3 linked regions of the Homo sapiens genome follow. The protein of the gene in region 1 interacts with the protein of each later gene in a biochemical or structural test. Each region holds a gene or a part of one and is shown in the gene's direction. Other genes may lie near its edges.

Region 1 (7,272 bases):
ACCCTCCGCCTCCCAAGTTCAAGTGATTCTCCTGCCTCAGCCTCCCGAGTACCTGGGATTACAGGCACCCGCCACTACGCCAAGCTAATTTTTATATTTTTAGTAGAGACGGGGTTTCACCATGTTGGCCAGGCTGGTCTCAAACTCCAGACCTCAAATGATCTACCCACTTCAGCCTCCCAGGGTGTTGAGATTACAGGCTTGAGCCATCGCACTTGGCCAGGAGGGACTTTACTTTCTTTGCACATGCTTTTGCACTTTGTTTCTCTTTTGAACTGTGTAATAACCTTTTTCCTTTTTTTTTTTTTTTTTTGAGGCAGGGTCTTGCTCTGTTACCCAGGCTAGAGTGCAGTGATGCGATCTTGGCTCACTGCAGCCTTGACCTCTCAGGCTCAAATAATCCTCCCACCTCAGCCTCCCGAGTAGCTGGGACTACAGGTGCGCACCATCATGCCCAGCTGTTTTTTTTTTTGTTTTTGTTTTTTTTTTTTTTGCATTTTTTGTAGAGATGGGGTCTCACCATGTTGCCCAGGCTGGTCTTGAACTCCTGGGTTTTAGCGATCTTCCCTCCTCAGCCTCCCAAAGTGCTGGGATTACAGGTGCCTGGCCCCTTTTTCTTTTTTTTTTTTTTTTCCCTCAAGACGGAGTCTTGCTCTGTCGCCCAGGCTGGAGTGCAATGGCGTGATCTCGGCTCACTGCAACCTCGGCCTCCTGGGTTCAAGCGATTCTCCTGCCTCGGCCTCCCGAGTAGCTAGGATTACAGGCATGCGCCACCACACCCGGCTAATTTTTTGTATTTTTAGTAGAGATGGGGTTTCACCATGTTGGCCACACTAGTCTCAAATTCCTGACCTCGTGATCTGCCCGCCTTGGTCTCCCAAAGTGCTAGGATTATAGACGTGAGCCACCGCGCCCGGCCCCTTTTTCCTTTTTTTTTTTTTTTTTTTGAGATGGAGTCTCAGTCGGCCAGGCTGGAGTGCAGTGGCGCCATCTCAGCTCACTGCAACCTCCTCTGCCTCCCGGGTTCAAGCGATTCTCCTGCCTCAGCCTCCTGAGTAGCTGGAACTACAGGCGCGTGCCACCACGCCCGGCTAATTTTTTGTATTTTAAGTAGAGACGGGGTTGTGTTAGCCAGGATGGTCTCGATCTCCTGACCTCGTGATCCGCCCGCCTCCGCCTCCCAAAGTGCTGGGATTACAGGCGTGAGCCACCGCGCCCGGCCTCTCGTTTTCCGTTTTTAAGGAAGCTCCTACTGAGTAATGGTGAAGGGGAGAGAAGAGATCCCTGGGAAAACCTTATCAATCACCTGGGTTCTGAATATTCCCAGTGACTGCACTGAAGGTGACAACAGTCCAGAAATGTCGCCGCTGCGGTGAATCCATCCATCGCCCCTCGAAGCCTTGCCCTATCTTGGCTGTCATACCGTCTACGGCCAGCAGGGGGTAGCACAGATCCACCAATGTGTTAGTCCCAAGCTTCAGTCATCCCTTCTAGGATTTCCTCCTCTGTGGGCCAAGATGGGAAAGATACCTCCTGCCAAGCAAATGAAATTTACTACGTAATAATTGATTCCATCTTCTCATTTTTTTTGTAACTCACAGTTCTGATCAGCATGAGAGAGAGGGAGAATGAATATAGGCTTGCAGAAACAATAATTTTCCACAGAAGAGGTGTTACTTAGCCCAGCTTTATTCCACCAGGCCTTGGGTGAAGAGTGGCTGGCAATGGCTTGAGAAGCCCCCAGGATTGAAGATACAGTCTGATAACTACTGCATTCGTGGCTCCCCGCCTGGCTTGGGTTTCCAGCTGCAGGGCACGCTCCTACCCTTCTCTTTTCCTCTCACAGAAGTAGTTCTGGGCAAGAGGAAGCATGAACAGCTGGTCCCATAGGATGACTTGAAGCAGCCACTCTCCTAGAGAGGTTAAAAGTCTGTCCCTCGCTAGGCTGCAAGCAGCCCAAGGACCAAGGCATTTCTCATCTGCCACAGAATCTGCAGGACCAAGCACAGTGATGGGCATGTAGCTGATGCTAAGTAAAGGTTTATTGTTCAATTGAAAGAGACAGCCATTGAGGAATCAGGGAATCCATTCTTTAAAAAAATGTGTTTTTATTCATTAAAAAAAAAAGTCTTCCAGGCTGGACGGGGTGCCTCATGCCTGTAATCCCAGCACTTTGGGAGGCCGAGGCAGGCGGATCACTTGAGGTCAGGAGTTCGAGACCAGCTTGGTCAACATAGCAAAACCCCGTCTCTACTAAAAATACAAAAATGAGCTGGGTGTGGTGGCACGCACCTGTGGTCCCAGCTACTGAGGAGGCTGAGACTGGATAATTGCTTGGACCTGGGAGGTGGAGGTTGCAGTGAGCTGAGACCGAGCCACTGCACTCCAGCCTGGGCAACAGCGAGAGACTCCATCTTAAAAGAAAAAAAAAAGTCTTCCACGACAGTTATCTTATAGAGACAAGAAGAAGAAGAAAGAAGGAGAAGAAGAGGAGGAGGTCCTAGCTAATCTCAAGGGCAAGGACCCAAGGGCAAGGCTCTGGTCTGTCTGAGAAGGAGAATATGGCAGTGTGCAGGGAATGGATCATTTTCCCTGCATGCCCAAGGAGAATTCTGCTTTGACTCACCTTGGAGGTCCTTGGTCAGGCCACGAAACCAGTGATCACATCTCTCACCCATCTGGGGTGCTGGTGACCTTGGCAGAAGAAAGGCTTAAACCAGGTCAGCCTGGGGGAAGGGGCTGGCTCCTTCCAGGGTCTTCCTCCAGATTAGATGTTAACTCTCCGTCTCTTGCTTAAAGTCTTGTCAGTGGCTCTGAATGTGAGGGCAGAAGGAGGAGGATGCTGTCAGGGGAGGGGACACTAATGGCTCCTGACCTGGCCTAGAGATAATTCGGGGCTCCTTCAGCGGGCCCTCCCTCCTCAGTGCCCTGGAAGTGTAGGGAGGGGTCAGTTGGGGATCCCCACAAATTAAATGGGGAATGAGAGGAGCAACTGAAAGTCTCAAATTCAGGCTATAGATGGGACCCCAGCCCCCCATACTCTCCCGTCCTACATGAGATGGGCAGTGGAGGGCCAGGACAGCAACTCCAAGCCAGTGTAGGTTTTGGAGGTAGACAGTGAGGAGGCTTGCTTCTGTCCTTTGTTAGCTGAGTGCCCTTGGACAGCTTACTTACCTACTCTCAGCCTCAGTTTCCCCATCTCTAAAATAAGGCTACCAATACCTACCTTCTCTGGCCATTGTCAGGATGAATGAAAGAGCTCTGAAAGTATTTCTGTAATTAGCAGACATCAGAGATTGTTATTCTCCAAGGTAAGAGGCCCCCCTAGATCCCTGGCGGTGACAGTGTCAAGATTCTTTTTCCCTCCTCTGCGGTGCCCACTCCTTTTCCAGCCTTGTGGCTGGCTCTCATCCTCCTTTCCGCAACCCCCCACTCCTCCTTGGGACCACCTTGGCGGGCCCAGCTTCTCGCAGCCTGCCATATTCCATAGGTGCCCCCATTCTAAAACCTGTAGGGGTGCCCTGCACAGGCGCACGGTTGGTCGAGGTGGGACAGGTGGCGGGGGTCTCCACTGGCCTGCGTCCGCGCCCCCCACCCTGTTTAGGAGTTCCTGTTTGGAGATGGCTCCCCCTCGTCCTCAGCTCGTCTCTGGGCTAAGCAGGGGAGGAGAGAAATAAAAGGTGGGGGGCCTGGAAGGGGGTTCCCACCTTCTCAGTCCGGGACGCGAGACGGGAACGCAGCCCTGGCGCCCCAACGCTGCACCACCGTGGGTCTCCGAGCCGTGCTCGCAGTCGCTGAGATCCTCGGTGCGGAGAAGATGTGCCCCTCCAATCCCCAGGCCGTGATCCCCTTCACCCAGACCCGGCCAATCCCTCGCCCGAGGCGAGCGGGAGGATGCGGTTCTAGGACCCGGAGGCGCCGCCGAGCGCGCCGCCGCCTCGGCCTCGCCTCGGTGGCCTCCCGCTCCGGCAGGTGAAGCGGCGCCGGCCGCCCCCTCTGCGGCAGGTGAAGCGGCTCGGCAGCCCACTCCCCGCCCGCCATGGTTGCGGGGGTCCCCCGGCCAGCGCCCGCCCCCTCCCTCCAGCCCGCCCCCCTGGGGCTGGGTGCCCGGCGGCGGCGGCGGCGAACTGCGGTTTGCGCGCACGGGGAGCGACAGCAGAAGTTCGAAAATCGCCGAGGGGGGAGCCAGCGCCGCAGCTTCCTGCCCCCGGCCCAGCCCTCTGGCCCCGGCGGCCTGCAGCCTGACTTCCTCCCCCAACCCTGCAGCTCGCCGCCCGGTCCCACGGACGGGGCCGCCCCGATGGGACGCCGCGCTCCGGCCCCTGCGCGCCGCTGAGCCGAGCGCCCCCCGCTGCCGAGACCCCCGCCGCCACCGCCAGCCGCTGCCCCCTCGCCCCCGCCCGGGCCGGGAGCCTCGTCCCCGTCCCCCGGAAAGCTGGATTTCCGAGGCTGGAGGCGCCTGGCCGGCTGGGTGGGGACCACCATGGGCAACGCGGCCGGCAGCGCCGAGCAGCCCGCGGGCCCCGCCGCGCCGCCCCCCAAGCAGCCCGCGCCTCCCAAGCAGCCGATGCCCGCGGCCGGAGAGCTGGAGGAGAGGTTCAACCGCGCCCTGGTGAGTGCGACCCGGAGGCGGGTCGGGCGCGGGCGGGGGGCGGCAGGGGCGCGGCAGGGGCTGGGCGCGCGTCCCCGCCCCCGGGGACTCAGGTGCCGCTTGGAGATCCCCGGTCCGGCAGCTGCCCCCTCCAGGAGGTGGGAGCGACAGTGGCCTTTTTTTCAGAGTGACTTAGCACTCTCCCCCCAAAACTTTCTTCAGTTATCGCCCGGTCTCCCTCCCTAAGACGCCTCCACCCCAGCTGGGTCTTAAGGTCTAAACAAGTATGTCCTGTGAAGAAGTTGGGAGCGGGGCACGCACAGGGGTCCCGGGTCGCCCCCTTCCCCACTGCACGCAGGCCCAGCCACCGGGCGCGGGTCTGGGGCATCTGCCTTTCTGTGTCTGGAGTCAAAGATGAAAGGGTTACAACCTCCCGGGAGCGGGAGACCTGCTGGAGGTGTTGGGTCCTGATTTGTTGGGCGCCTGGGCTGCGGGGAATGGGGTTGTCGGATCATGGCCAGGAGGTATCTGTGTTTCTACCCCGCCATATGTCAGAGCCAGGGTGCCTGTGGGTCTTTATCTTGGGGCATCCTTTCCAAGCCACTGAAGGGAGTAAGATGAGGGAGGGTGGGGTCAGGACGGGTGGGTCGCCCAGGCTAGGGGTGGAGCAAAATCTGGAACCACCCCCCTCTGTGCCTACCTGGGGAATTGGAGCGGGGTCGCTGGGGAATAGGTCTCTGGGAGGGAACCAGCAGCTCAGGCCGAGCCTGGAAACAGTCAACATGTTCAGTGGGGTGGGGGCTCCAGAGCAGACTCAGGGGTCTCCAAGACCCTGCATAAGGCAGAAGTAGGGAGAGGAAGAGCTGCTCACTCTCACTCTCCCCACCCCCGACGCCCTGGCCCTGGCTCCCTCCTCTAACTAATTGCCTGGTGGCCTGCCTGCTGTCAGCCTTCCCTTGCTGGACGCTGGGTGACAGGCAAAATGAGGCTGTGCCTTCTCCCAGATGCATTTCCCAGTCCCTGCAGGTCTGAGGGTGGGGGCTCAACGGAGACACAGGCCGCAGAGGGTTCTGGCTCAGTTGGTGGCCCTCCATCTCCTTGACATCATTTCCCCTCGCCTGGCTGGTCATTAGGCCATACGTGCTAGATCCTCAGCATGGCTCCAGAGGGTCACCTCCTAACAGTTCCTGAAAATGTTGGCTTCTGTCCTCTCCCAAGAGAAGGCTGGGGGGAGTTTGGAGGAGCTATGGGGTGGCGAGGGATCCATCCTTGTGAAGACACCTTGCTTGATTAGAGGAGGGCAGGGACACTGAGGGACGCCTCACACCAGGCTGGCCCCTGACTTCTCCATCTCTCCACCTGCCCTGCTCCCCGCTCCCCAAGCATAGGACTTCACAAAGCTGAGCTGAGCTGAGCAGATGGGGGAGGGGGGAGAATGAGGAGACACAGTCTCTGGGGGCCATCTGGAGAGCCTGCATTGGTGGTGGGTCCTTGGACCCCTGCCAACCTGGTTGGAGGGACATGGGTCTGTCTTTCCGCCAAGTGTGTGTCTATGGTCGCGGGTGTGGGCTCTTGGGGTGAGGTCCTGACCCCAATCTTCTGTTTAGCACGCTGATGGGGAGGAGCCCTGTGAATAATTCAGACCAGGGGAAAATCCACAAGTCAAATGGTGAGGTTCTGATGTGTGTGTAGGACTTGTTTGCCCTGCTTGGATTTGTGGCTGTGATTGGCTGAGTCTGACACTAAATGCCACTGGGAGTCCCTGAGTACCAGGATGTGGAGGGGGGACACCCACAGGTGGGTCAGAGAGGGTGTGCTGGTGGAGAAAGTGGAGGTGCCTAGCAGAAATTTAGGGTAGCAGCACCCACCAGGGCTTACCCCCTACCAGGTGCCCAGGAACCCCAGTGTGTTTATACCTTCTTCCCGGGGTGGCTCAGCCTGTCTTATATCCTGTTGTGGGCAGGTTAAACCCAATCTAAGGACACTTGGCTAAGACCCTGGTTCCTCTCATTCCCCACCAGCAGGGGCATGAGGCTTGCCCCAGGGTGACAACCTTGACCTCTGCCTGAGGCTGCCCAGGGCTAAAGAGTTGGTTCAACCCTCAGGTCTGGCAGTGTGTATCGCAGAGTTGGTCGCTATGTGAACCCCCACCCGAACCACCATGGCCAGAGCTGAGTCCTGTCCTCGGTCAGTGTCTAAGAGGAGAAGAACCTTAGATTGCTGAGGGGAGGGGCCCACCGCCATCAGTGGTCCCCAGTCTCAATGGGAGAAGCACAGTCCTGCCCTCAGGGATGTAGTCCAGCGGCCCCAGGGAACCTCTTCCTTCCCCTTTTGTCCCTGGTGGGGCATAGGATCCTGATACCCCAAACTCTCCTTCCTCTCCTGGCTGTAGGACCTCTCTTGTGGGTGAGGGGTGTCCCCACTTACAGCCAGACAGGAGGTGCAGGGAGCCCTTCTCCCATGCAAGGGTGGGTGGTGGGGGGCTACCTTTCCAAGAAAGCTGTGAAAGAAAGGGGTGCCCCCTGCTTAAAATGGGGGTGGAGAGAAAGAGCAGGTTGAGCCAGGGTTTCCGGCTGCTGCCTTAGCAACAGCAGAGGAGCGATGGCTGCCCAGCCCCACGGGCCTGCTGTGATGGTGGGAACACCAGCCAGCGGGGCGCCAAGCTCTCGCCTCTCCTACGC
Region 2 (7,467 bases), on another chromosome or scaffold:
GAGGATCACTTGAGGCCAGGAGTTTGAGATCAGCCTGGGCAACATAGCAAGACCCTATTGCTACAAAAATAAAAAACTTAGCCAGGTCTGGTGGTGCCTGCCTGTAGTCCCAGCTACTCAGGAGGCTGAGGTAGGAGAATCACTTGAGCCCAGGAGTTCAAGGCTACAGTGAGCTATGATCATGCCACTGCACTCCAGCCTGAGCAACAGTATGAGACCCCTCTAAAAACAAAGAAAGAAGGAGTAATAACCTAGAAATTAAATAAGAAAACAGAGGTTCAGCAGTTTAGAGGCTAAAGGAGTTCACTCAAGATCACATAGAGAGTAAGGGTAGGGTCAGACCTCAAACATGATTTTTATTATTGTAAATCCAGGTGTTTCTCCCCCCTAACCTACATTGCCTTGTTCTGAAAATTGAAGCGGATACTGTGAATACACTTTGAAAACTGTAAAATTATATACTAATGTGAAGCATCAGAAAACCCTTTTAAAAAATAGCTCTAAGTAATAAGTAATTTTTCAATGGCTCATTGCATGCTTTATACCAGTCCTTGTTGCAGCCCACTGAACCTTTCTCTATGCTTTGGTGTCAATATCCATCTTCCAAACCCAGAGCTATCCAGAATAGTGCCACAAATTACCATTTTAAACATGCGATGTCCTTCAGTTTACATTTGCAGATTTTGGTGAAATAGCATCTTCCAGTGAAGTCCACTGCGCTGGAGAGAGAAAGGTATAAAAAGACAGTCAGATGTACTTTACAAAAAATTTAATTGTGGCAAAAAATTAACAAAATTTACCAACTTAACAAGTTTTATGTGTGCAGAGCAGATGTGCTAAATATAATCACATTGCTGTGTAATGAATCTCCTGGGTTCAAGTGACCCTCCTACCAGAGTTTCCTGAGTAGGTGGAACTATAGGCGCCCTATACCACATTTTGTTTATCTGTTCATCTGTAGAATCAATGGACATTTGGATTGCTTCCACCTCTTGGCTATTGTGAATAATGCTGTTAATGAACATGGGTGTGCAAATATCTCTTCCAAGATCCAGTTTTGAATTATTTTGGATATGTACCCAGAACTGCTGGATCAGATAGTAATTCTACGCTTGATTTAGCACAAATTTTGTCAATCCAAAGAGCTGAAAGCTAACATAGAACTATAGTATATTTTTAAAGAGTCAGTTCATATTTGTGAGCTCAACATAAACATCTGACAAATTTTCCATTAAAAAAATTTTTATGTGTTCATTGATTCACATACATCTTAGCACGCTAATTCATTATTATTTTAACCCCTACAAAGAAGGGTAGAAAATGGGAAAAACATGATTCTATTCTAGACTTGGGTCTAACCTGTAACAATTCACCTAGCCTTCCTTATGACTGCCCTATTACTTACCATAGCTATTGCAAAGATGAATGGGTTAATATTTTAAATTTGTGTATGAGCTACTAAAAAGAAAAAGCAGTGGACAATGAATCACAGAACTTTGTAGCAGTAGGTTCTATGATTTATTTTCTAGTGTTTTCCCTTTTTTGAAATACATATACGATGTACACACACACAAATGTAAAATATTAACTTAGAATTTAAAAAAATTAAAAAGATTTTAAAATAACACATTTATCTCTGCAATAAATGAGAGCCTTTGGCTTTGCTGTTAGACATGATTACACTTAGACCAATTCAGAAAAGATTTCAAGAAAGGAAGAGTACACAGCTTTACCTGGGTAAATCAAAAAACTTGTAAAGTTTCTATCATTATCATGAAATTCATTTAAAATGAATTGTGGTTATTAACCTGCTTCCTCTGGCTCTATATCCAAAGACTTAGAGAATAACTGTCCACTCATATTTTGGATAATTACTTTCCTTTTAATAATAAAATTTCAATAAATAACTAAATTTTGAAGATTCATGTAGGGCATATATATGTTGATTATGGAAAGGGAAAGTACCATTTAGAGCTAGAAAGAGGTTTATTTGAGTCAAATAAAATGGCTATTTTACCAAATAGGAAGCAAATTCTTAAGGACTCTACACCCAAAAGCAGTTAGTGGCTGAAAACAAACAGATTTTAAAAGGGTTCAATTATGGGAACAAATGTGTAATGTCCAAAATAGTCTTTATTGGAGATAAGGATTAAGGCTAAGTCTCTATTTTTCATCCCATAAAAATCTATTTACATCTCTTTCAGAGAGAGAGAGTTTTGAGGAAAGAAAACTGAATTTGATGAACAACGGATCTGATTTAGGATGCCAATTGCAAATAATGATAGAAAACGGATTTTTTTTTTTTTGGTGCAAAATTTCATGGATAAAAATGAAAAACTTAAATGACCTCTCCTCTCCAACAGTACGGAAAATTTTGCCTGAATTTACCTAAAGTCTACGCCACGGACTTGATTCAGTGAAATAGGATGGTTGGGCAGGGCACTGAACCAGGGATCAAACTTAAGAGATGTGTGGTCGCATGACTGCAATTGAACTAGAAGCATTACATCAGGACTGACCACCTTGGCTAAACCACAGACTTTGTCCAGACAGTCTGCCCACTTAGATATATTCCAAGGGGATCATCAAACTGGTGGGAGTGGCTGAAACACCGAAATGATAACCTCCTTGTTGACTCCCACAGATCCAAGCCATAAGTGTTCCCATTTAGTTAAAAGCTACCGTTGCCCGCCACTAGCATGACTTACTTGGTAGGAGGGATGTCTGTAGAGAAAAGGTCTATTTCAGTATCAGCCAGCAAAACAGCCTTCATTCCCCTAGAGCTGAGCACTTGTTTACAGAATTTGCAACACAGGATGGACACGCACCTGTCCTTGAAACTACAAATGTTGGTAGACATGGCGTCGCAGGAAGGATGAGGTGTGGGATTTTGAAAAAGGAAACAAGAGTAATGCTCCTACTATTTTGATTCCCCTAGGCTAAAATTCAAATTGCGGGACCTAGAGCTTTTCTAAGTCCTAATATTGGGAAGGAAATTAGTTTTTTTTTCTGTTTTCCCGGTGGCGGAGTAGAAGAAGTATTTATTGAGTAGGAACAGGGGAGCGTGGCAAACTTGGCTTTCCTTTTAACTTTTGGAGAAGGGAGTGGAGTTTGAATTGGAGAGGAGGCAGGTGGAGTTTGAAGGGAACTTCTCAACGGCTTTCCCTTTCTGCTGTCTAAAGGAGTCCTCTACACTTCAGCTCCCGCCCCTTCATAGCAATTCCCTCAGCCTTCTCCGATCGTCTAATTTAAAGCTTCTCCTCTTTTAAGACATCCCTTCCCCAGCATTAAGCCCCTCCCCCGGAGCGCTCCGGTTCCCTGCTGTCGGATCTCGGGCTAAGCGTCCCTACCCACGCCTCCTCTTCCCAGGATTCAGAAACTCCCTTCTCTTTTTCTGCCAGGCGATCCCGGATTCTCCTCCGTCCCGCCCCTTTTCTCCCGGACCTTCCTCCGCTCTGCGGGTCCGCGGGCCCCTCTCCTGGCAACCCCCGGCCCTCAGCGTGCTCGCGCTGTTTCTCTCGCGTCCTCCCTTCCCTCAGCTGTCCCTCGTGCCCCCCGCAGTCCCCTCAGGTTTCTTCCCGGAGCGGCTGTTCCCGGGCGCGCGGTGGTGTTGGTGGGGCAGAGCTGAAGTCGCTTTAGAGGCTCAGTCGGCGCTGGGGTCTGTCACCGAACACGTTGGTTTTCGCTCCCTCTTCCGCTTTTCCTGCCTCTCCAACCCGGTATCAGTTTGAATTGCCAGCGCCGCGCACCGATTGGAAGAACTAGAGTTAGCCCCAGTCCCTCATTGGAAGGCTCCGGGGCCTCCCCTCACGAGAGCTTAGTGGCTTGAAGACCGTAGGCACCGCCCCAGTAACGGTGCTGAGATCAATTCGGCTTTCTGGTTGGCTGAGCTTGGCTCCGCCTCCGATCTCATTGGCCGGCTTCGGGAGGTTTCGGCAAACCCTGCCTTCGCCCTAGTGAAAGTGGCAAGGCACGCCCTTCCCGCTTCTTATTGGAAGAGGTTCTACAGTCTCCACCGGTCTCTACTCTTTATTGGTTAAAACTCCCCGCAACACCCCTCCTCTCTACCCCGGCCCAATTGGCCGTGCCTTAGCTCAAGAGTTTGTGTTTGGTCGTCGGTTCCACCTTAATCCCGCCCATCAGTTCTACTTAGGGGTTCAACAACCCGGGGTGGAGCTTAATCTGTGACCACGCCTCGGCAGTGCTAGTCACACCTCCAAGTTTTGCCAGCTCCTCCCCCTCATTCCGGGCCTCTCGGGATCAGCTCTTCCTATTGGCTATGGGCCCCATCGGTCGATAGAAAACGGGCGGTGATTGGTAAAGGGGTGGGCTCTACTTCCCGGCGGGGTCCTGCGGAGTTGGCGGAGGCTCCTCCAGGGACTGGGGCACCGATCTGCGTAGAAACGGGTGGCGGGGAAGAGAGGGGAGGAGAGCTCTGAGTGGGAAGCGGAGCCGGGGGCCTGGGACCCGTCGCGTCAGAGCCAGGTAAAGGCTCCTTCCCTCTTCCTTTTCTTCCTCCCGGCCGCCGGGCTGGAGCCCTGACTGAACAAACCGGGGCTGGGGCGGGAAGGAGAGGGCGCGGATGCTGCTCGCGGCATCGCCTTAGCGGTGCCGCCCGGAATCCCTCAGACCGCCCCCCCTCCACCCTCTCCAAATCTCCCAGTACAGCCCATAATACTTCTCAGGACTGCGAGTCTCTCCGCCCATCACTGTACAGCCTGGGACTCCGTCCTGGCTCACGGACCGCAGCGCAGCCGGCACCCAGCCGCCTCTCCCTTTCCTCCGCACACGGGCAGCCGCGGTCCACCGTAGGGCAGTCGTCGTTGGCATCGCGCGTAATCATCGGCCGGCCTCCTCCAGTGTCTCCCAGCCCTGGCGGACAGCCCGGGTCCCAGCCTAGGACCCAGGAGGATGGGTGTTCCGCGCAGCTTCCGGGGCTCTCCCCGAGTCCCACCCCCCGGCCCGCCCCGATGGACTTCTCTTCGCCCACTCCCATCCCTAGACCACATCTCGGCCCCCACAGTTCCTGACATCCTTGCGCTTCACGCAACATCGCGGCCCATGATCATGCCCCAATTCCCCTCACCTCTAAGGCAGCCTTCTCCTTGCCGCCTCCCGCCTTCCGAGCGTGTGCAACTCCAATTGTCCCCGGGCTCCCTTCCAGCCTCAGGACCCCATCTCACACCCGCCTCTCGCTTCCCGCTTCCCGCTCGCCTGAACCCCGCCGCCTCTGCTCCCTGTCTTGTTCCCTCAGCGTGGCCCCTTCCTCCAGCCGCGGGAAGTGGGAGACGCTAGCGGGAGCTTCCTCCTCCCGGCGCTCGGAGGAAAAGGAAAGACCAAGTAGAAAGGGTCGCCGCTGCGGCACGCGAGGGAGCTAGTCGCCGGGCTCCGCGCTCCCGCTTGCGTCCCTCCAGCCCCCTGGGCCTCGTCCGGGGCCGGATCTTCTCGGGCACCGCCTGGTGCGAGGAGTCAGGACTGCGACCTCACCGACCTCCTCCCATCCCCAGCCTGGGATTGGGTGGGATATCTGGGATCTCTGAGCTTGGGTGTCAAAAAAATATTGGGGGTGGCATTTATAGTCACTATCGTCCCTAGCTTGAGGGAGGCGACGGCTGCCTTCCGCTCGCCGCCCCCCGGTTTTCCCGGCTCCGACCCTATCCTCTAACCCGTTTCCTGCTTCAGCTGACCACATTGTTTTCCTGGATGTGTCCCGTGCCGAGCAGGCTTTTTCCTGCAGATTTGCCCCCCCCCCCATCAACATTTTGCTGCCAAGAGAAGCTAGTAACCAAAAACAAAACAACTGGGAGGAGGGGCGGGAGAGGAAGAAAAGTTGTGCCCTGGTGGCTTATCCCTCCCCGGCTTTGATCCCCTTTGATGTACAGGGAGGTGCCCCGGCCGGGGGTCTGGGGCCACGTCGGGGGCTAGGTCGGGAGGGCTCCCTCGGGCTGGCCGCTGCCCAGCGCTGGCGGGGCTCAGGAGGCCGCCGAGGTGCCGCAGTCCCCGCCTGGTGCCCCGCGTTCCTGCAGTCCCCGCCCGGAGCCCGCGCAGGCGGCTGCTCCAAAGTGTTTTCTTTCAGCCTTAAAATCCGGAGGGAGCTTCCTTCCTCCCCACCTCGTAGCGCCAGGCTCTGCGGGCGGGGAGACGTTAAGCGGACAGGAATGGGCCCAGGGCGGGCTCGGAACGACGTCCCCTACCCCACCCCCGCCGCGATTAGGATCTGCGCTCTGGCTGATCGCCCCCTCCCCCTTTTCCTGCATTTACAGGCAAGTGAACCGGAGCAAACGACTTCCGATCCAGTCTGCGCTGTTGCGGCTCCCGTTTGGGATTTGATTTGCAGCATCTTTGAGCCTCTACGACAAAAAACCGCGAAGCACGCCCAGCCCTCCCCCGGCACCCCGAAAAGCACCCACTCCCTCCCGGGGACACAGCTGGGCGCGTCCACACCCCCGCAGCCCCACACCATGTTGTGCGGAAGGACTTCCACTCCCCGCCTGTGTCGTTGATGTCAGACCCCAGGCCAGCCTCCGGGCGCTGCAGTTCTCCCGGCTAATGCTGAGGCTGCGGCTCCGGCTCTAGCACAGGCACCAGCCGCCGCCGCACCCGGCCCCAGCGCCCACCGTCTGCATGTGCCCGCCGTAGCCGTCTGCCCAGCCCGCAGCCCGCGCTCCACGGAGCGCTGGAGACCACCGTGGGGGGCCCCTTCTGCCCTCGAGAGAAGCGGTCTTGGAGGTATTGATTTAGGTGGTTGGATTTTTTCCGTGGATCTATCAATTCACAATTCGAATTTGGAAGAAAGAAGGAAAACATGACGTCTCCAGCCAAATTCAAAAAGGATAAGGAGATCATAGCAGAGTACGATACTCAGGTCAAAGGTAAGGGCTTTGAAAAATAGCACACTGCAAATGCTCTGTGGACTGGTGAGGCGTGTATTTCCACCGTGATTTGCAGGTTGTTCATTTCTTTGGGTGGAGCAGATGGGGGCAGGCTGACCCCAGAGGTGGTTTCATAGATGGGTCTGAACCTCCAAAGGATGGGCAATGCCAGGGGGCCATTGACACTGGAAAGGAATTTTTGCAGTGGGCTGTAGGAGTATCTTTGTGGGGCTGACCATGATTTTGGCAGCCCTTTCCCCCCCAAGCCGGACAGGGTGGGGGGAGGGGCAGGAGGCTCTTAGAGAAAGGCAGTTTGCCTCCGGTTCTCTGGGTCAGGTTTCCTTGAAAGACAACTGAAATCTGACAGGTGTTTGGACATTTGTTTCAGAGATTGAAGAGGAGTCCAGACAGAAAGGCAACCTTGGGAAGGTGTACCATTTGGAGAGCCTTGGGAGAGGCGGGGTTTTTCGGATGCACTATATTAAAACATGAGATTTGCAATGGCATTGGCACCAAAAGTCCATTGCCACCTTGGGTGTACCTTGTACCTGCCTGGTCTCTGGTCGGCCTGCATACAATCAGAGATCAGAGAATA
Region 3 (8,095 bases), about 35 Mb from region 1:
TCTCTTAGGTAGATGCCTCGGAATAAATTGCTGGGTCATTAGGTAAATTTATATTTAACTTGCTTTTTCTTCCTTTTTCTTTTTTTTAGACAGGGGCTTGCACTGCTGCCCAGGCTGGAGTGCAGTTGTGTGGTCATGGCTCACTGCAGCCTCGATCTCCTAGGCTCAAGTGATCCTCCCACCTCAGCCTCCTGAGTAGCTGGGACCACAGGGATATGTCACCACGTCCTGTGGCTAAATTATTTTATTTATTTTCTATTTTATTTTATTTTTTGTAGAGACAGGGGTCTTACTATGTTGTCTGGGCTGGTCCTAAACTCTTGGCCTCAAGGGAACCCACAGCCTCAGCCTCTCAAAGCATTGGGATTACAGGTATGAGCGACCACGCCTGGCTATGTTTAACGTTGTAAAGAAATGGAAACCTTTCCATTTCTCTGCCATCCATAGGCTGATAGAAAGGTGTATAAGGTTGTCTTGGGTAGAAATGAAATACCAGCCACCACATAACTAACAAATGCACAGTGTCTAGAGAAAGCTCTGACACAGGTTTATACAACAACTTAGCAAGTAGAAAATCTAAATATGAACAGGGTCCAAACAATCTATGCAAAAGATCAAGAAGTACTGAATGCCTGCTTTTTGTATGAGTCAACGTTAGGCTTTAAGAAGGATAGATAGGCTAGGCATGGTGGCTCATGCCTGTAATCCCAGCACTTTGGTAGGCAGAGGTGGGTGGATCACCTGAGGTTAGGAGTTCGAGACCAGCCTGGCCAACAGGGCGAAACCCCATCTCTACTAAAAATACAACATTAGCCGGGCGTGGAGGCGCATGCCTGTAATCCCAGCCACTCAGGAGGCTGAGGCAGGAGAATCACTTGAACTTCGGAGGTGGAGGTTGCAGTGAGCCAAAATCATGCCATTGCACTGCAGCCTGGGTGACAAGAGTAAAACTCAGTCTAAAAAAAAAAAAGATAGATGGAAATTTAAAACAAAGATGCTATCCCTCTCCTGAGTTACTAACAGTCTAACCAGTAAAATAAGACTTAATAATAATTATTATTTTTTTAAAAAGCAAAAGTAGGCTAGGTGTGGTGGCTCACGCCTGTAATCTCAGCACTTTGGGAGGCCGAGGCGGGCAGATCACGAGGTCAGGAGATTGACACCTGCCTGGCTAACACGGTGAGACCCCGTCTCTACTAAAAATACAAAAAATTAGCCGGGCGTGGTGGCAGGCGCCTGTAGTCCCAGCTACTTGGGAGGCTGAGGCGGGAGAATGGCATGAACCCAGGAGGCGGAGCTTGCAGTGAGCCGAGATAGTGCCACTGCAGTCCAGCCTGGCTACAGAGCGAGACTCCATCTCAAAAAAAAAAAAAAAAAAAAAGCAAAAATAAATTAGCCAGGCATGGTGGTGTGCACCTGTAGTCCCAGCTAGCTTCTCTGGAGGCTGAGGTGGGAGGATGGCTTGAGACGCGAGGCAGAGGATGCAGTGAGCCAAGATCACACCATTGCACTCCAGTCTGGGCAATACAGCCAGATCTTGTCTCAATTTAAAAAAAAAAAAAGCAAAAATAATTAAAGATTTAAATACAATTTCAAGATAGTAATATAAATCAGAGAGGGAGAAGGCAGGAGGGAAAATTGATAAGGGAGGAATTTATCTTTCCTTCAAGATCCTGGGAGAAAACAGAAAGCCAAAGTGTGTTTCTACAAAATTTGTGGCATCCCAAAGATGTAAGAGTTCCTCCTTCTATTGTTGCTCTAGAAATCTTAGTTAAAAAAGAAGTGTTACGTAATAAATCACCAGGACCCTTGAACTGGATAGATAAAAACAATCGCTAACATAGGGGCATTTAATGTGCCAGGCACTGCTCTAAACAGTTTACATGCTTCCTCACTTAATCTTCTTAATAACTCTATGATATTAATACTACTGTTGTCTTCTTGTAGTGATGAGGAAAATGACGCTCAGAGACGTAAGTAAATCACCCAATGCCACACAGCTAGAAAGTGGCAGAAATGGGGTTTGAATAAAGGCAGTCCAGAGCCAACATATTTAACCACTAACTACATTTAACCATTTAAATTCCCATATTCCAGTTACTGGATTCGATCTCCAATTACAGACGGGGAAATAGACCCAAAGGTATGGGAAGACTTGAGGATTTGGAGGTTACCTGATTGATAAGAGATCAGCAACAGGAGTTCCACTAACTGCTAGTCCAGTCTTATTTCTATGAAGACTGACATTGGGTATCACCAGAGAGTCTTTTCTTTTCTTTTCTTTTCTTTTTTCTGAGATGGAGTCTTGCTCTGTCGCCAGGCTGGAGTACAGTGGCGTGATCTCGGCTCACTGCAACCTCCACCTTCCAGGTTCAAGCGATTCTCCTGCCTCAGCCTCCTGAGTAGCTGGGATTACAGGCACGCGGCACCACACCTAGCTAATTTTTGTATTTTTAGTAAAGATGGGGTTTCACCATGTTGGCCAGACTGGTCTCAATCTGCTGGCCTCGTGATCCGCCCGCCTTGGCCTCCCAAAGTGTGGGGATTACAGGCATAAGCTCTCACAGGCTGTGCCCAGCCTAGAGAACTTTCTCTTAAGATGCTATTTGTGGGTGAGTCACTAGGATACCTGCTTTCTGACTGGCAGGGGGGACGACAGAAAGCAACACCAGTGTACAATAAGCTAGAATTGAGTTCAAAGCTGATTCTGCTGTTGACCAGCTGTATGATGGTGAGCAAGTCACACTCTTTGAGCCCAGTTTCTTTACCTGAAAACTGGGACAACAGTCACCTCATCAGCTCGTAGGATTACAGGAATGAAATGAATTAAGTGGAGAAATTAACAGCTATTATCATTTTTGGTTGCTGCAGGAATGTTTGAGGTGGGTCAGGTAGAACTCAAGTGTATGGCATGCTGTGTAGGCTGCGATTTCTCAAGTCCAAACTGGATCACAGTTCCTCACGGGCATGCAGAGAATTAGGGTTGCAGGATGGCTGGAAATCAGTTGTCCTACCTTGATTCAGGCCACATCATCAGGAATGAAGCCTCAGAACAGCCTGCTGGAAGTCACATATTTTCCTGATACAAGGAATTGTATCTCTTTTAAAACTTCATTGGGCCAGCTATTTTTAATGACTGTTTTTGATATGAAGTTATGCAGCTCCGCTTTAAGGGACTCTTAGTGGTGACTGTGGTCAAGAGTTTGTTTCTTTATATTTCCGGCCAAGCGAATGTTCAAGACTTTGCAATTGATGGACTATTACAAATAATCTGCTTGTGTCACTTTGCCCATGGCCAGAGAACAGATGGAGGCTGCTCAGGTGAGATGGCTTAGCTGCAGACTAGGGCTCAGTAGTGACTCTTAAAACCTGGGCATGAGTATTTTTAAAAAGTTGCATAATGACTGTAATGTGCAGCCAGGATTGAGAACCATTGAACTAGGTGAAAGGCTCTGTGCCAGGGTCTGATTCAAAGCATAGACAGGTGCGCAAGATCTTCAGGCTCTTGGAGCCCGGCCTGACTGGTTTTGTAATGGATATCTAGGCAGTCATAGTAAGAGGTGAAGCTAGAGGAGGCGTTGTGGAGGGCCTGAAATGTACAGGCAGAGAAGTTTGTACCAAATTTAAAAGGCAATAGGGAGCCACAGAAGGTGACTGGGGGAGGGGGGAAGGAGTAGACAGAGGTATACAGGCGTATTAAAGGGTCCAGCTTTTTTTTTTTTTGAGACGGAGTTTCACCCTTGTTACCCAGGCTGGAATGCAGTGGTATGATCTCCGCCCACTGCAACTTCCACCTCCCGGGTTCAAGCCATTCTCCTGCCTCAGCCTCCTGAGTAGCTGGGATTACAGGCACCCGCCACCACGCCCGGCTAATTTTTGTATTTTTAGTGGAGATGGGGTTTCACCTTGTTGGCCAGGCTGGTCTTGAACTCCTGACCTCAAGTGAGCCATTCGCCTCAGCCTCCCAAAGTGCTGGGATTACAGGCGTGAGCCACCGCGCCTGGCCGAGTCCAGCTATTTACAGGCTAAAAAATGTACTTTATTTTATTTCTTTAAAATTTTTTATGGAGTAGACTAGCAAAGAAACCAAGCTTTCTTTTACTTCTGTACGGTCAGTTCAAGGTCAACATTCTGCAGCACTCAGGTTCACTGGTCCCTGGAGAGCAGGGACTGGCCCAAATGATGTTTGTAGTACCTGGCACATCGCATGGAACATGGCAGCCTCCTGGTAATGTTTGTTGACTGACTACATGAGTGTAGACTCTTTAGCCAACCCATCTCGATTTCGGGAGGGCTGGTACCCTGGGCCGGCCTTCCCTCTGCAAGTAAAAGCATTGGTGCTGTTCCTCTCACCGTTCGCCTTTCCTCCATTTATCCCCATCGACTGTTTCCAATTCTATCAACTCCGACCCCGTCTTCTCTCCATTCCGTCCCTCCAGCGTGCCACGCTGCCACCAGGCTGCTGGGCTCAGGCGCCAGGCTTCAAACCTGTCTTTCACCCATTGTTCAGTTTCCGGTGAGACAAGTTCAACCCCAGGTTCAACCACTACAATGACAACCACAAACGATCCCTCGCAGACACCTCGAAGAAGCCGCCCGCACGCCACGGGCCGCCAGGCCTACAAAGCAGGCACAGAACAGAGGGGCGTTTCCATTCCCGCGGTCCCCGGCGGTGGGGGCGCGAGTGGGAGCCCCTCTCCCCAGTGACAGGCCCCTCTGCGAGGGAGCGCGCAGCCCTCCGCGGGCGTGGCCGCCCTGGCCCCGCCCCGGCCCGCCCCCTCGCCAGTGAGCTAACCCCCGCCCGGCCACCCGGCCGCCAGCTCCTCTCCACGGCCGCCCGCCGCGGAGTCCTGCCGCGGGGGATGCTCCGGGTCCCACCTCCCGGGGGAGCTGCGCATTTCCGCGCGCCAGGGCGGCCCCGGCCCCGGTCCCGGCCCCGGCCCCGGCCAGCCCTCGCGGCGGCAGCCCGCGTTCCGCGTTCCCGGGAAGTTGTCTCCGGAGCCCGCGGCGCCTGGGTCTCCTCCCCCTGAGCCCCGCCCCCCAGCCCAGAGCTAGGATCCGCGAGCTGCCCGGCCCGGGGGCGTCGCCGCTCGCTCTGCGAAGCCAACGAGTCTCTGCTTCCCGGCGCGGAGCGCGCGTCCCCCGCCTGCCTGAGGACCCCCGCGCACCCCAGAGACGGCGCGCGCCCAGAGCGCGGGAGCCCGGAGCGCCGGGCGCCTGGGACCCCGCGGAGCCGCTGCCCAGCCCGTGGGGCTCGGCGGGAATGCAGGCTGCGCTGTGAACCCGGGCGCCAAGGCCATGTCCGGCGCTCGCTGCCGGACCCTGTACCCCTTCTCCGGGGAGCGGCACGGCCAGGGGCTGCGCTTCGCCGCGGGCGAGCTGATCACGCTGCTGCAGGTCCCGGACGGCGGCTGGTGGGAAGGCGAGAAGGAGGACGGGCTCCGTGGCTGGTTCCCGGCGAGCTACGTGCAGTTGCTGGAGGTAAGGGGCGAGGGCCGGGGCTGTAGGAGCCGGGGCTGCGGTCCTCGGTGCGCTCGCGTACCTGTTGCCCGTTCCGGGGATGCCGCAGCGTCCCGGTCGGAGGGGCGCCCCGGGGGGCAGCCCTTGCCGGCGCTACCTGTAGCTCCACGCTCCTGGGGGGCAGCGACGGCAGCGGGCGCCCCTCGGGGCGTGGGCAACGCGGACTCGCGGGGAGCTTCCACCTTGCGCCGGGCCTCCGGAGCACACCGTGGCTGCTCTGAGGAAGCGAGAACTTGTTGCCTGTGTGAGTTAAGGAGCAGGCGGGAGCGTTCCCGGCAGTGGCAGGGGCCGGTGAAGGGTCTGGCGGTCTTGGGAAGAGGCACGGAGGATCAGGGGTGCGAGAAAGTGGCACCGACTCGGTCCCGCAGCCCCGCGTCTCCACCCCGGAGTCTAGAGCCTGATGACCCGTGGACGGTCGTGCTGCCTTGGGTCAGGCTGCCTGGCCGCCTCGGGACCACCCACTTGCTGGTCAGCCGAGCCTGCTGGCCACCAGCCCGAGCCCCCTCAGCAGGCTTGATCCTGGGGTGCCGTAGCACCCCCCGCCACTGCCTGCTCCCCTGGTCCAGCTCCCCGAGGCTAAGGCTCAGAACCCGAAAGTGGCTTGTTCCTGGGGTTCTGGCCTGGCCCCAGGGCTGCACAGGACCTGCTGAGGCAAGGCGGCTGGCTGTTTATTGTCTATGTGACAGGCTGTCCTCTAATCACTGAGCTCGCAGTCACAGCCTGAGTGAGACCCGAAGTTTCTAAAGTCCTTTGTGTGTGGGGGGGTGACCTTCCAGGACATCCCCTTTACTAGAAGCCCGCCTGCCCCCAGGATTCTTGTAAAGACTAAATTAACAGTTACCTTCAATGGTGTCAGTATTCCTAAACATTCTGGTAAAACACTGCCGGAAGAAATCATGGAGGCTGAATTTATTTATTATTTAACTCTTGACCTACTTCACAGAGAAAGTAGCAAATTTTGACTGAGAATGCTCAGTGCAATTCATCGGGGGCGGGGGGAAGAAAGAAAGAAGTGAAATGGTTACAGGGTGAGTCCGCCTGAGGATGTATCCTGTGGCAACATTGTCAGCAAGAGCCTGGCCTTATAAAAGTACATTAGATTGCTTTCAGGTCCAGAGAACAACAAAATCTCTCCTAAAGGCATCAGTAGCATTTGAGCAAAGTTTAGGGGCTGCTGGAATGAGCTTTCATGGGCTGTCAGCAGAGTATGTTGCAGGAACCCTCTTGGTTCTGTATCTGGAGAATCCGGAGATACCCTACTTGTAGGAGAGGCTCAGGTGTGCCCTGCCCTGGCTTTTCCAGTTCCTTTCCCGAGATTCGGATGTAAAAGAAAGCGAACGTATTGCTTCTTACATGAGAAGCAAGGGGCCTCCTTGTTTCTAGCTTGAAGCCCTGGGATAGATACGTATTTTGGGAGTTCTTCGGGTGGTCACCCTTTTCCAGGAAATTCTGATGTGGAAATTTGGCTGATGGATGTCTGTCCGGTGAGGAGCATCCCTGGCTGGACTGAGCCAGCTGTGTTTTGTGTAGGGGTGAGGCTGGGTAGGTGTTAGTTAGCAAGAGTGGAGTGCTGCTTTTTCTTCCGGGAAAGGGACGATGGACCAGGGCCAGGGGACAAGCGGAATTAACAACTGGGACAGTTTTGGGTGTGTCTGTCCCATCCTCTGGCATATACAAAGGTAAGAGATCTCTGGTGTCTCAGGGCCTCTCAGACCATTCCTGACTAGTAACTTGCAACAGAAGCATCCATCTGCGTGAGCAATACTTCTGAGCACCTGCTTGGCACAGTGTGTGCACGTTATCACCAGTTCCCTGACAGCTCTGTGAAGGGTGAGGTACTTCCCCCATTTTATAGACAAGCAAGCTGAATATGAGAGAGGCGAAGTCAGCTCCCCAACTAGTAATGCTTGCGTGTTTTGTTAGCAGCTCAGATGACTGAGTATCACCCCCTGCGCCTGTGCCTTTTTTAAACATGATAGCCCGGGCTCAACTATGCCAAACAGCGTGTGAGCGAAGGGTCTGGATCCATGGGGAAAAGGGGCATGCGCAGCCCCTGAGGTCAGCATGTTGGTGACAGCACCGCGAAGGGGAGGCTGAACCTCTAGGGCTAAAACGAGGACAGCTGCATCCAGGAGCAACTTGGAGGATCTTCCCTGCTAACCCCAAAGTGTGACTTTACTCAGAACCAGCTGGGGGTCTTCCCACAGTGGGCCCGAGTCCTGTATCCTAAGTACTGGGTGGGACTCTTCTCAGGGCCAAAGCAGATGCAGTTTCAACAGGGGGGCATGTGGGTCAGGTGCTTGGCATCTGGGAACCTCCTACATGAGCAAGTTGGACCTCAAGGCTGAAGGCTAGGTAGAGATAGAGGACATGCAAGCAGAGTTGCTTGGGATGGGGTGAGTCCTGAAGGGCAGACTCAGAGAATGCAGAGGTCCCCAGGCTGGTGGGTAGACTGGCCAGCATCTGGACTCATGAGACTAGAGAGGGGGCCCATAGATACTGGAGATGGCGAACCTCATGAGATGTCAGCCAATGTGGTGCTGTCACTCAGCTTGCTTGGGAGCATGGAGTTCAG

What was found.
Region 2: the proteins of FMNL1 (region 1) and SRGAP2 form a complex in vitro, tested with the Homo sapiens proteins (one study listed by IntAct).
Region 3: the proteins of FMNL1 (region 1) and GAS7 form a complex in vitro, tested with the Homo sapiens proteins (one study listed by BioGRID).

What each region holds. Positions count from the first base shown.
Region 1 is NC_000017.11:45,217,642-45,224,913, forward strand, and holds the start of FMNL1 (formin-like protein 1), read left to right. Parts: upstream 1-4,243; 5' UTR 4,244-4,483; coding exon 4,484-4,612; intron 4,613-7,272. UniProt on the Homo sapiens protein: May play a role in the control of cell motility and survival of macrophages. Plays a role in the regulation of cell morphology and cytoskeletal organization. Required in the cortical actin filament dynamics and cell shape.
Region 2 is NC_000001.11:206,199,166-206,206,632, forward strand, and holds the start of SRGAP2 (SLIT-ROBO Rho GTPase-activating protein 2), read left to right. Parts: upstream 1-4,375; 5' UTR 4,376-4,485; intron 4,486-4,678; coding exon of another isoform or gene 4,679-4,830; exon of another isoform or gene 4,831-4,942; intron 4,943-5,086; exon of another isoform or gene 5,087-5,548; intron 5,549-6,263; 5' UTR 6,264-6,805; coding exon 6,806-6,872; intron 6,873-7,467. Other genes in the region: protein FAM72A, read right to left, coding at 642-719, 2,709-2,860. UniProt on the Homo sapiens protein: Postsynaptic RAC1 GTPase activating protein (GAP) that plays a key role in neuronal morphogenesis and migration mainly during development of the cerebral cortex. Regulates excitatory and inhibitory synapse maturation and density in cortical pyramidal neurons.
Region 3 is NC_000017.11:10,195,594-10,203,688, reverse strand, and holds the start of GAS7 (growth arrest-specific protein 7), read left to right. Parts: upstream 1-5,082; 5' UTR 5,083-5,298; coding exon 5,299-5,481; intron 5,482-8,095. UniProt on the Homo sapiens protein: May play a role in promoting maturation and morphological differentiation of cerebellar neurons.